Regions from separate parts of the Homo sapiens genome. Here region 2 is linked to region 1. Evidence: fine-mapped expression QTL. A gene starts in region 1. The other region holds a variant in brackets. All regions are shown on one strand. Distances are from middle to middle. Region 1 holds the start of HEIH (hepatocellular carcinoma up-regulated EZH2-associated long non-coding RNA). Region 2 has its middle 6.7 kb from the start of LINC00847.

The links. PIP is the estimated chance that this variant, and not a neighbour inherited with it, causes the effect.
Region 2: its variant is the best candidate, but not a certain one, in a credible set for the expression of HEIH in whole blood (TOPMed, PIP 0.55).

What each region holds. Positions count from the first base shown.
Region 1 is chr5:180,829,240-180,834,614 of GRCh38, forward strand. HEIH (hepatocellular carcinoma up-regulated EZH2-associated long non-coding RNA) reads right to left here and starts at 2,379. Exons shown (of 1, transcript NR_045680.1): 1 at 715-2,379. It overlaps LINC00847 (long intergenic non-protein coding RNA 847), which reads left to right and starts at 1,718. Exons shown (of 3, transcript NR_045679.1): 1 at 1,718-1,990; 2 at 3,434-3,621; 3 at 5,073-5,375. It also overlaps a transcript of ZFP62 not described here. RefSeq lists silencers at 1,944-1,993, 2,354-2,483, 2,924-3,093.
Region 2 is chr5:180,821,609-180,826,983 of GRCh38, forward strand. It overlaps a transcript of ZFP62 not described here. Among named protein-coding and RNA genes, the nearest start is that of LINC00847, 6.7 kb to the right of the region's middle. RefSeq lists a silencer at 3,061-3,355. The variant T/A (reference allele first, on the strand shown) is at 2,953.

The sequences.
Region 1 (5,375 bases):
GCCTTTTGCCCTTTGTCCTGTTTCCTCAGAGGCATGTGATCTTTGTTCTGCCTTTTGCCCTTTGTCCTGTTTCCTCAGAAGCATGTGATCTTTGTTCTGCCTTTTGCCCTTTGAAGCATATGATCTTTGTTCCTACTCCCTGTTCGTACACTCCCTCCCCTTTTGAAATCCTTAATAAAAACCTGCTGGTTTTACGGCTCAGGTGAGCATCACGGTCCTACCAATATGTGATGTCACCCCCGGTGGCCCAGCTGTAAAATTCCGCTCTTTGTACTCTTTATTTCTCAGCCGGCCAACATTTATGGAAAATAGAAAGAACCTATGTTGAAATATTGGGGGTGGGTTCCCCCGATATCTGGCCCCTATCGGGTTCCCCCGATAGTTCTATCTAAATTTTTATCTGAAAAATAAGTTTCTCTGCTTTAAAAAAGAAACTTTGAAGACCATTTTACAGAAGAATTGGTTTGCCAAGGTGGAAAGAGAAGCTCATCAGTGACGTGACTTAGCCAAAAGCACTGGTTATACCTCTATACCTCGGAGCCGACACTGAAAGCCCCGGCCATAGTCTTTCTGCCCCAAGGAAAGCCTGGGGTGGGGGTGGGTGATATTGTCAAGAGCCAGGCCCCAGCTCCTCATACACACAGCTCATTTGCTCTCCCTCCCAACCCCCACCTTCATACTTCTTCCACACGCATACCAAAGAAAATAAGAATCTCAAGGTTGGAAAATCCCACTTTACTTCAAGTGAAGTCACTGGGTTGTCCCCATGAAATATCTCCACAATGGGTGTGCTAGACCTTTACTCTCTGTGGCACCACCAAGACCCCCTCACCCTGCCAGAGCCCTCTGAAGTGTACTCAGAATGGAGGGGCTGGAAGTGGGGCCAGTGGTCCTGGTAGTCAGCCTCCCCTTCTGACACAAGAATTATCGTGGAACAGCTTGTGTGACCGATCAACTGGTCTCTCCATCTTTAAGCCATTGTCTTGTTGACTCTGTTACTGCAGAGTTTGGGGAGGTCTCATGGCTTCTCGCATCCTATTTCCTGAGCTTCCCTGAAGCCAACTTCTGGCCACTGGTATGTGATGCGAGCACAGTGCCTCCTCCTGCTCCTCCAGGAAGCTTCTGCTGATTGAACGCAGGCCAGATGGCGAGATCCGGAGCAACCTTCTTAGATCAAGGGAAGAAAGGGGCACAAGAGGGGAGTAGGTAACAAGATAAAAGGAGCTCCCTCCCTGATGACTACAGAGCCATCGTGGCAGCCCTGGGCCTCCATTTCAGACGTTCATCTTGCCTAAGCCACCACCATCAGGGTCTCAGTCAGTCATCATTCTCATTTACTCGGGTGGCTGGGTGAGGGCGGAATACTACCTTCCAGCTGTCTGAGATTAAGCCTAAGCCACCACCATCAGGGTCTCAGTCAGTCATCATTCTCATTTACTCGGGTGGCTGGGCGAGGGCGGAATACTACCTTCCAGCTGTCTGAGATTAAGCAGAACAGCAGCTAAAGCAGTAACAGCAGGTCTCCTTCAGCAGCTTGCCACAGGGAAGAGGGTCCCGCGTGAACCGAACTCAACTTCCACCTGCGCAGAGGTAGCTACCATTTGCGTAGAGGTAGCTGGGTCTTTAAGGTTAGAGGGAAGGCGCAGGGAGGGAGAGACGGCGGGTGGGGGTTGAACAAAGTGGAGATTCACAAAAGCAGACTAGGGCGGGCGACGTGATCAGATGACCTGTGCGGGCGGCAGCCTCCTGCCCTCCTCCCCTTCGTGCGCCGGCTGGAGCGAAGAGTTCTTTTGACAGCCGTGAGCTTCCCCGCCAGGAACTTACTGGGGCTGCATCACCCTAGAAACGTGGCTTTGGGCTGTGGAAACGCTGCCTCTGTGGAAGTCTCTCCTCGCGGGGGTGGACGGGTCGCTGCGCGCCCAGCGTTCTTCTGCGGTTCTCACAGCCCGCCGCCGCCGCCGCCTCGGGGACCTTTGCGGGGAGGCCTCAGGTCAGCGCCGCCCTTGCGATGGCGGGAGAGCAGAGCGGCCCCAGGGCCTCTGAGCTCCGGCCCCGGCACGTCCCGCCCTCTCCTCCGCTTGCGGGAGCCGGGGCGCCTCGGAGGGAAACCTTCCGGACACAGGCCGGGAGAAGAGGGGCCGTGGCGCCATCGCGCAGCTTCCTGGTTTCGGCCATGTTTTTTTTTTTTTGAGACGGAGTTTCGCTCTTTTTGCCCAGGCTGGAGGGCAATGGCGCCGTCTCGGCTCCCTGCAGCCGCCGCCTCCCGGGTTGAAGGGACTCTCCGGCCTCAGGCCGCGGTGTTCTTGTAAATTAGAACCGGCCTATGCGCCAAGCGCGGGTCTCGCGGCTGCGGAGAGAGGCCCAGCAGGGGGCGGGGACGCCGGGAGGCGGGGCCTGGCCGAGCTGCGCACACCCGGGTGGTTCTGGCTACGGGTACCCGGACCTGCCCAACGACCGTTCTCCATTCCCGACCTCCGCACCCTACCCGGTCCGCAGGGCACCTTCCTCCTCTCTCTCAGGCACGTCCTCGACCTCAGTTGCCACGTGCACATGCTGGTGCCTTCCAGGTCGGTCTTTCTCCACCAGACTCCACCTGGAACTTTCTTCCTTTTCGTCCTGTGCTGGCCTAACCCCTGCTCGGCCTCGGCCCTCAGCTGCCGGCTCTAACAAAGCCTCTGTCTTTCCCAGACCCCTGTGACCAGGTCAGGCTCTGCTCCCTGCGTTCCTCTCTCCTTGCTTCCCTCCTCCTCCCCTCCCCAGAATCGCTTGAACCTGGGAGGCAGACGTTGCAGTGAGCTGAGATCGCACCATTGCACTCCAGCCTGGGTGACAAGAGCGAGACTCCATCTCAAAACAAAAAACAAAAAACACAACTCTTGCTGGCTCCTTGATTTTAGCCCAGTGAGATTCACTTCTAATTTCTTTTTTTCTTTGAGACAGTCTGTTCTGTCACCCAGGCTGGAGTGCAGTGGCGTAATCATGGCTCACTGCAGCCTCAACCTTCCTGGACTCAAGTGAACCTTCCACCTCAGCCTCCCAGGTAGCCGGGACTACAGGGGTGCACCAGCATGCCTGGCTAATTTTTGCATTTTTTGTAGAGATGGGGTTTCACTATGTTGCCCAGGCTGGTCTGAAACTCCTGTGCCCCAGCAGTCCTCCTGCCTTGGTCTCCCAAAGTTCTGAGATTACAGGCATGAGCCACTGCGCCTGGGCTTCCATTTCTGATTTCCAAAACTCTAGGATAATAAATTTACATTGTTTTAAGCCACCAAATTGTAGTAATCTGTTACAGCAGCAATAAGAAATGAATACAGCCATGCTTGATAATTCCTTTATCAAAAGCTACCTATTGGTGTTAGGAAGTATTGTTTTAAATTCTAAGACAGTGTTTTCACTTTCTATCTTGTGCACTGACTACCTCATGACCCCTTAGGTACCAGTCAGGACTGGTAGACTTTAATGTGGAGAACTTCTGAAACAGCAGTTCTCAAAATGTTACCTCCAGACACACAGAATCTGCATCACCCAGGAACTTGTAACCATGCAAATTCTCAGCCACCCAGACTTCCTGCATCAGAAACTCTGGGGCCCAGCAGCCTGTGTTTTAACAAAGCCCTTCAGGTGATTCTGACACTTGCTCAAGTTTGAGAACCGCTGTTCTAGGAGCTGGTCCTGCAGGGAAAGGGTGGCCTCTCAGTTCAGGTTCCAGTGTGGCTGGGGGTGGGGGTCAAGGTGAGGGTTTGGTTGTTGTGTCTGACAGTCAGCCAGGCTTGAGCACACGGACTGTTTACAAGGCTGCACTTTCCATGTTCTGGTCAGCAGTCTCCTGGTTCATTCCGTTACGAATGGACTGTCACCCCAAAATTAATGTTGAAATCTATTTCTCTATTTGGAGGTGGGGCCTTTGGGAGGTAATTAGGTCATGAGAGTGGAGCCCTCATGAATGGAATGACTGCCTAAGAGAACAGAGATGGCTCACACCTGTAATCCCAGCACTTTGGGAGGCTGAGGTGGGCGGATCACGAGGTCAAGAGATCGAGACCATCCTGGCTAACACGGTGAAACCCCATCTCCACTAAAATACAAAAAATTAACCAGGTGTGGCAGCGGGTGCCTGTAGTCCCAGCTACTCAGGAGGCTGAGGCAGGAGAATGGTGTAAACCTGGGAGGCAGAGCTTTCAGTGAGCTGAGACTGCGCCACTGCACTCCAGCCTGGGCGATACGGTGAAACTCTGTCTCAAAAAAAAAAAAAAAAAAAGAGAACAGAGAGCTAGCTTGCTGATTTTCTGCCATATGAGGATACAGTAAGAGGGCAGCCATCTGCAACTTGTAAGATGACCCTCACCATAACGTGACCATGCTGGCACCACGATCTCAGACTTCTAACCCCCAGAACTGAGAAATAAATTTCTCCACCACTCTATGACACGGTATTTTTTTTTTTTTTTTGAGATGGAGTCTCGCTCTATTGCCCAGGCTGGAGCGCAGTGGCACGATCTCGGCTCACTGCAACCTCTGCCTCCCGGGTTCAAGCGATTCTCCTGCCTCAGCCTCCTGAGTAGCTGGGATTACAGGTATGCGCCACCACACCTGGCTAAGTTTTGTATTTTTAATAGAGATGGGGTTTCACCGTGTTAGCCAGGATGGTCTCGATCTCCTGACCTCATGATCCGCCCGCCTCGGCCTCCCAAAGTGCTGGGATTACAGGCGTGAGCCACTGCGCCCAGCTGGCATGGTATTTGTTATAGCAACCCAAGCTAAGACACTCCATGTTATGGACTGAATGCTCGTCTGCCCCCAAAGTTTCTATGCTGAGATCCTAACCCCTTTGTGATGGTAACAGGAAGTGGGAACTTTGGGAAGTAACTAATTAGGCCATGATGGTAGGGCCCTCATGAGTGGGATTAGTGGCTGTCTTAGTCCATTTTGTGCTGCTATAATAGAATACCCGAGACTGGGTAATTTATATAGAACAGATGTTTGTTCTCTCACAGCTGTTGCATTAGGGATAGATGGAAAGACTTATTTATGTATTGACTGACTGATTGATGGGGCCTTGTTCTGTTGCCTAGGCTGGAGTATAGTGGCATGATCATAGATCACTGCAGCCTCAAACTCCTGGGCTCAAGCGATCCTCCCACCTCAGCCTCCATATAGCTGGTGGGGACCAAGTTTCTAACACATGAATGTTGGGAGACACATTCAGACCATCGCAGTGGCCTTATAAAAAGAGACACAAGAGCTTGCTCTCTGCCATGTGAGAATACCACAAGAAGACTGTCCTCAGCAAATCAGAAAGCGGGTGGACCCTCATCAGACACCAGATGTGCCTGCACCTTGATCTTGGACTTGCCAGCCTTCAGAACAGTAAGAAA
Region 2 (5,375 bases), 7.6 kb before region 1:
GGACAATAATGACTGACCACGGAATTGGGTATAAGTACAGGCTTTAAAGGCAGAGAAACCTACATTTGAAATGAACCCTGTTATACAGGAACACTATGACTCTGAAAGGCATATGAATACTTGGAGCCTCAATGTGCTTAGCTGTAAAATGGGAACAATCAGATTATCTACTTTACAGAGCTGTTGTGAGGCCTATATAAAGCCTTGCGTGGCTGAGATAGTGCTAGTAGTACCCACCAAATCCCCTCTCAGTTTCCTCTTCATGAACATAACACTACATTTGCCACCAGTTTGAGTCCATGTGACGGCTCTAGCCAATAAGCCACCATATAGATACATGTTGTAGGTGATGCAATTACAAGATAGAGGAGGGTTGTCCAATCCACAAAGGACCTTATGTGAGCAAGCGATCGGCCTTTTATTTGTAAAGCCACTGAAATTTGAGGTTTGTTTTTTTTTTTTTTTTGTGCTACGGGAGCATTGTCTAGCTTACCCTAATACATTGGACATATGATAAACAATTGATAAATTTTGGTATTGAAAGCCGGGCGCAGTGGCTCTTACCTGTAATCCCAGCACTTTGGGAGGCCGAGGCGGGCAGATCACCTGAGGTGGGTGTTCAAGACCAGCCTGACCAACATGGTGAAACCCCGTCTCTACTAAAAATACAAAAAATGAGTCGGGCATGGTGGTGGGCACCTGTAATCCCAGCTACTCGGGAAGCTGAGGCAGGAGAATTGCTTGAACCCAGGAGGTGGAGGTTGTAGTGAACCGAGATCGTGCCACTGCACTCCAGCCTGGGCAACACAGCAAGACTCCATCTAAAAAAAAAAAATTGGTATTTAAGGTGTCTGTGAACCAATGTGGAATGATGCCTTGAACATACATTATTAAGAGAGAGAAGCAAGACAGAACAGAGTGTATAGTGCGCCACATTTTGTGTAAGAAAGAAGGATAAATTAAAATGTATATATGTACTTGCTCATGTTTGCAAAAAGAAACACAGGAGAGGAAAAACCAGAAACGAATCAACTTGATGACCTATCCTTGTAGGGAGACTGGGGCAGGGTGGTGGGGATGTGCACAGGCGTGAGACTTCTCTGATCAAATGTTTTTACACAATGTTGATTTTTGAACCATTTATTCTCTATATATTCAGAAATAAAAGTAATTTATAAAGGAAAATGCCTTAAAATTGTACCTTAAGAGAAATAAATGACCAACTCTATATAAAATTGATCCAAACCAACAATAAACAAAAAGGTTAATTTGGGTAACTTGAACATATTACTCTGACTATATCTATATATCAATATTATTAGGAACTAGGAATTTTTCTGTATAAGAGGAAAAAGATAAAATATAAAAAAATAATGTAAACACTTATGTTAAATTTCAATAGCAATACAAACTCATACTATTTCATTATATATATATTTTTATTATATATATATTCATTACATATGTAAATAAAGCATCCTAGTTGTGTTCCTGAAAAAGCGTACGATGACACCCTAGTGGTAACGAACATAACTAACCCTCATATCTTGCATCTCCTGCTGTAATAAATGGTACAGGCAAGAATAATCAATGGATACTGAAACCATTACATAAACGTGGCAGGGCAATAGAATATTCCTACAGGGGCAAAGTACACCCCACAAATCATTCAGTAATTTAAAAGGAAAAAAATGTTGGATCCAATTTATACCCAGCCAGCACATCCATTTGACCCTGCCTGCCCCTGGGGACCCACTACCCTGATCCTAGGTAAAGCAGCTCCAGTGATGGCCGCAAAGTTCCAGCTTCCACCTTGTCACCTTACCTCCTATAATGACAGGCACCGCTGTCTTTGGCAAGGCCATGTCATTCCACCTGCCAGGGCAGGAGCTGCAGCAACTCCTGTGCCCAGGTCCAGCAGGAGCCCCGGGTGAACTGGCTTTCCCAGTGGCTGTGTCGAGGCAGCTAGCAACACAATCCTGAAGTACAAGTGCTTTACCACCACGTGAGCTTTGCCTTGTAGGACTCCTCTGAGGTGCAACGGAGCTACACAGCACCTCCAAAGATGTCTCACATAGCCAAGCGGCCAGCTGTGCTGTTTATCAAGCAGTGGCTAATTCAGCAGCAGACCATCTTGTAGTTTCCCCCTCAATTCATTTTTCCCCTTTCACAGCATTGCACCCCCACCCTGCAAAGCAATAGCATGTAAACTTTGCCTCAGTTGATGTTCCAGGCAAAGGTACCTTCTCATGGACATATAATAATTACTTTCTCAACAGGTCATCCCCCTGAGCATCGCTGCTGGCAAAAACCCAGTGTGAGGACCTCCTCATGGAATACCTGTAAAGTATTCTTTATAGCCAAATAAATAAATAAATAAAAGAAAAAAGTTTATTCAAACCTAAAACCTAACTTCCATTATAAGGGCTTAAAAGTAAAAGTTAAAGGACACCATCAGGAAACAATCGGGCAAGCCAGGGATGTGTGACCTTCTCTAAGACAGCTGGCCCAGATTCCTCAAGTCAATGTCGTAAATCAAAACCAAACAGAAGTTAAGGTGGGGGAGATTTTCCAGATTAGCCTCCAGATGGAATCCATAAGCCTTGATTAGCTCTCGGGGGAAACTGCATACAAACATTTAAGGTACAATTGCAAAAATTTTAAAATGACTTGGATATTAGTTGTGATTGTAGAATCATTGTTAAGTTTCCTAGGTATGATAGTGGTATTGCGGTTATACAGGAGATTTTCTTTATTCTTAGGAGATTCATATTGAAGCACTTACGGATCATGATGCCATACTGACAACTTATTTTCAAAAATGGTGTGTATCATGTGTTTGTGGGGAGACAGAGAGAGGAGAAAAACCAAATATGGTAAAACGTTAACAACCATTGAATCTAGATGAAAAGCATTTGTGGTTTCTTTTGACATTTTTCAGTGTTGAAAATT[T/A]TCATAATAGAAGGCAGACAGATAAATATCAGTAAAAAGCAGATAAAATTGAGGATATATTTGTATTTGAAGAGCTTTTTAAAGCCATGTTTTCTTTTCCTCAACCAGTTTCAAATAAGCAGCCAATACTTTATCAGGAACTAATTCATCCACCTCAGAATGGATATTCACACCCAAATTGCTGTGCTTTCAAAAGCTTTTTAACCTCTTGTTTGTTGCTAGCACTTTCCCAGTGGAAAGAATTTGATGCCATTTCCGCACACCCAAATTCCTGTTGGCAGGATAATCAGCAAGTAATACAGAGAGCTGCTTCCTTCAACAGCTGCATTCAGCACAAAACCGAGGGCCGATTATGTGGAGAAATATCCTTCAGAGGTAAGGCATCAGGTAAAGGCATCAGTGATCTTTTCCATGCATTCCAAATACTGTATTGGATCAAACTGGAGCAGCATCATTCTCTACAGCTGTGCTGGCAACAGACAGACACAAATGAACTATTTAATATGGCAAAATGCACAGCTGTTTGAGGCTTCTATTATTAGCACCAGTTCTCGACTCACTGGGAAAACTCTTCTTCAACTTGTTAATGCGACAGTTTTATTTGTTTGGACGCAGCTTTCCATTATCATTCTTCCCACCCCAAACTTCCCTTTATCCCCAAGATGTCTCCAGACAGAGGTGTTTCCAGCTGGCCCCAGTTCAGCTGATCTCCAGTCTGTCTGCCCATGAGAGTCCCAGGAGAGCATGCCGTCTAACTAAGCCGCCTGGGCTTTGCTCTGGACCCCTAAGGAGTCCCTACAGGTCAGGTCTTCCCTGCTCCATCCAGAGAGGGGCCCCTCTCATACTGCAGAATGCTCGAAGTCCACAAATGTTCATTCTCCCCTTCGTTACTAGTAGAACTCACTCAGTTAAGGCTGAGCTCACGGTAGGCAACCTCAAACTCTCAGTGGCTTATCAAAAAAGTCATTTATTTTTCTTGCAGGCTGGTGGAGGCCGCTCTGCTTCAAGCTGTGAGCCGAGTCAGGGCTGCTTCACTTGTCTCTCATCCTCTGGACCAGTGACCACCTGGGGTGGCAACAGGGCCAGAGGACGAGCAGAGACACAAGAGGCCTCCTAAGGCCTCAGCTCAGAACTAACAAACTCGCTTCTGCCCACATTCCATTGGCCAAAGCCCTGCATGAGTTGTGGAAAAGTACTCTCCACTTTGGTGAACATTAGTAAGAGAAAAGAGGGAAGGAAGAATTGCAGGCAAGTAATACCATCTACCTCGGCCTCCTATGCAGCTTGGTGTGTACCTGCACCTAAGTTCTGGCCTGTAGGATATGAGGGGAAGTGAGGTGTGCAACTCCAGGACCTGCCCCTGTAAAGACTGGGCCCTGCCTTTCCCCTGCCCATCTGCTGGGGACATGGTAGGACTGCAGCAGTTGCCTGGCCCAGAGATAGACGGCACAGCTATCCTGCTGGTCCTACCTCTAGACCGCCACATGTACCTCACTTACACTGCTTGGGTTTTGCATCTTAAAACCCCAATTAGCACACCATTCATTCATTCATTCCCCCATCAACAAGTATGTACTGAGTGTCTTTTTGCCAGGCATTGCACTAGGTTTTGGAGAGATGACAGTGAACAAAAACAAACTTGGCTGTTCTGTATCTTGGCTGTGGCAGTGGTTACACAAGCCTACACATGTGATAAAACTGCATAGAACTAAATACACACACACAGAGGAATGCCAGTCAAACTGGGAATTAAAGAATCAAAAAGTCACTGGTGACTCAACATGGCAGCAGTCCAGCTCAACCATACAGATGACAGCAGTGTGCTGAAGTATGACAAAGGAATGATTTAAAAGGAATTGAGGCAGAGCTGCCAGGCAGGCATGCTCACCTTGGACTTTGAAGCAAGAGAGACATAAATAAAGGTCTTTGTTCTGTAAGTAGAGTGTTCATATAATTTATCATCCAAACTGAGACACCTGTGAAAATAATTACACTGGAACAACTTGTGTGACTGATCAGCTGGTCACTCCATCTTTAAGTCATTGTCTTGTTGAGTCTGTTATCAGAGCCCATGGAGTGCCATGCATGGACAGCTTATTTAGGCACAACAGAGAAAAATTAAAGGGAAGGAGGAGCAAGGAAGAGTGGAAAGGATAAAGAAATGGTGAGCATTGGCAGGAAACAATGCAAGGAGAAAAGGGAACAGGAATCGGATTTTCTACTAATTTGCTGTGTGTTCCTGTGTCAGTTTATAAATTAGTGTCTATATTTACAACCGATTGGAAGAACGAACTTTTTAGATCCTCTCATCCAACAAAGCTGCAGATTTCTTTATTGAGATGGAGTTGAGAAAGCTTTAAAACAGGCCAAAGCAACATGAGGACATGTGTCATGAGAAGAGAAATGGTCTTCCATAAATTGAG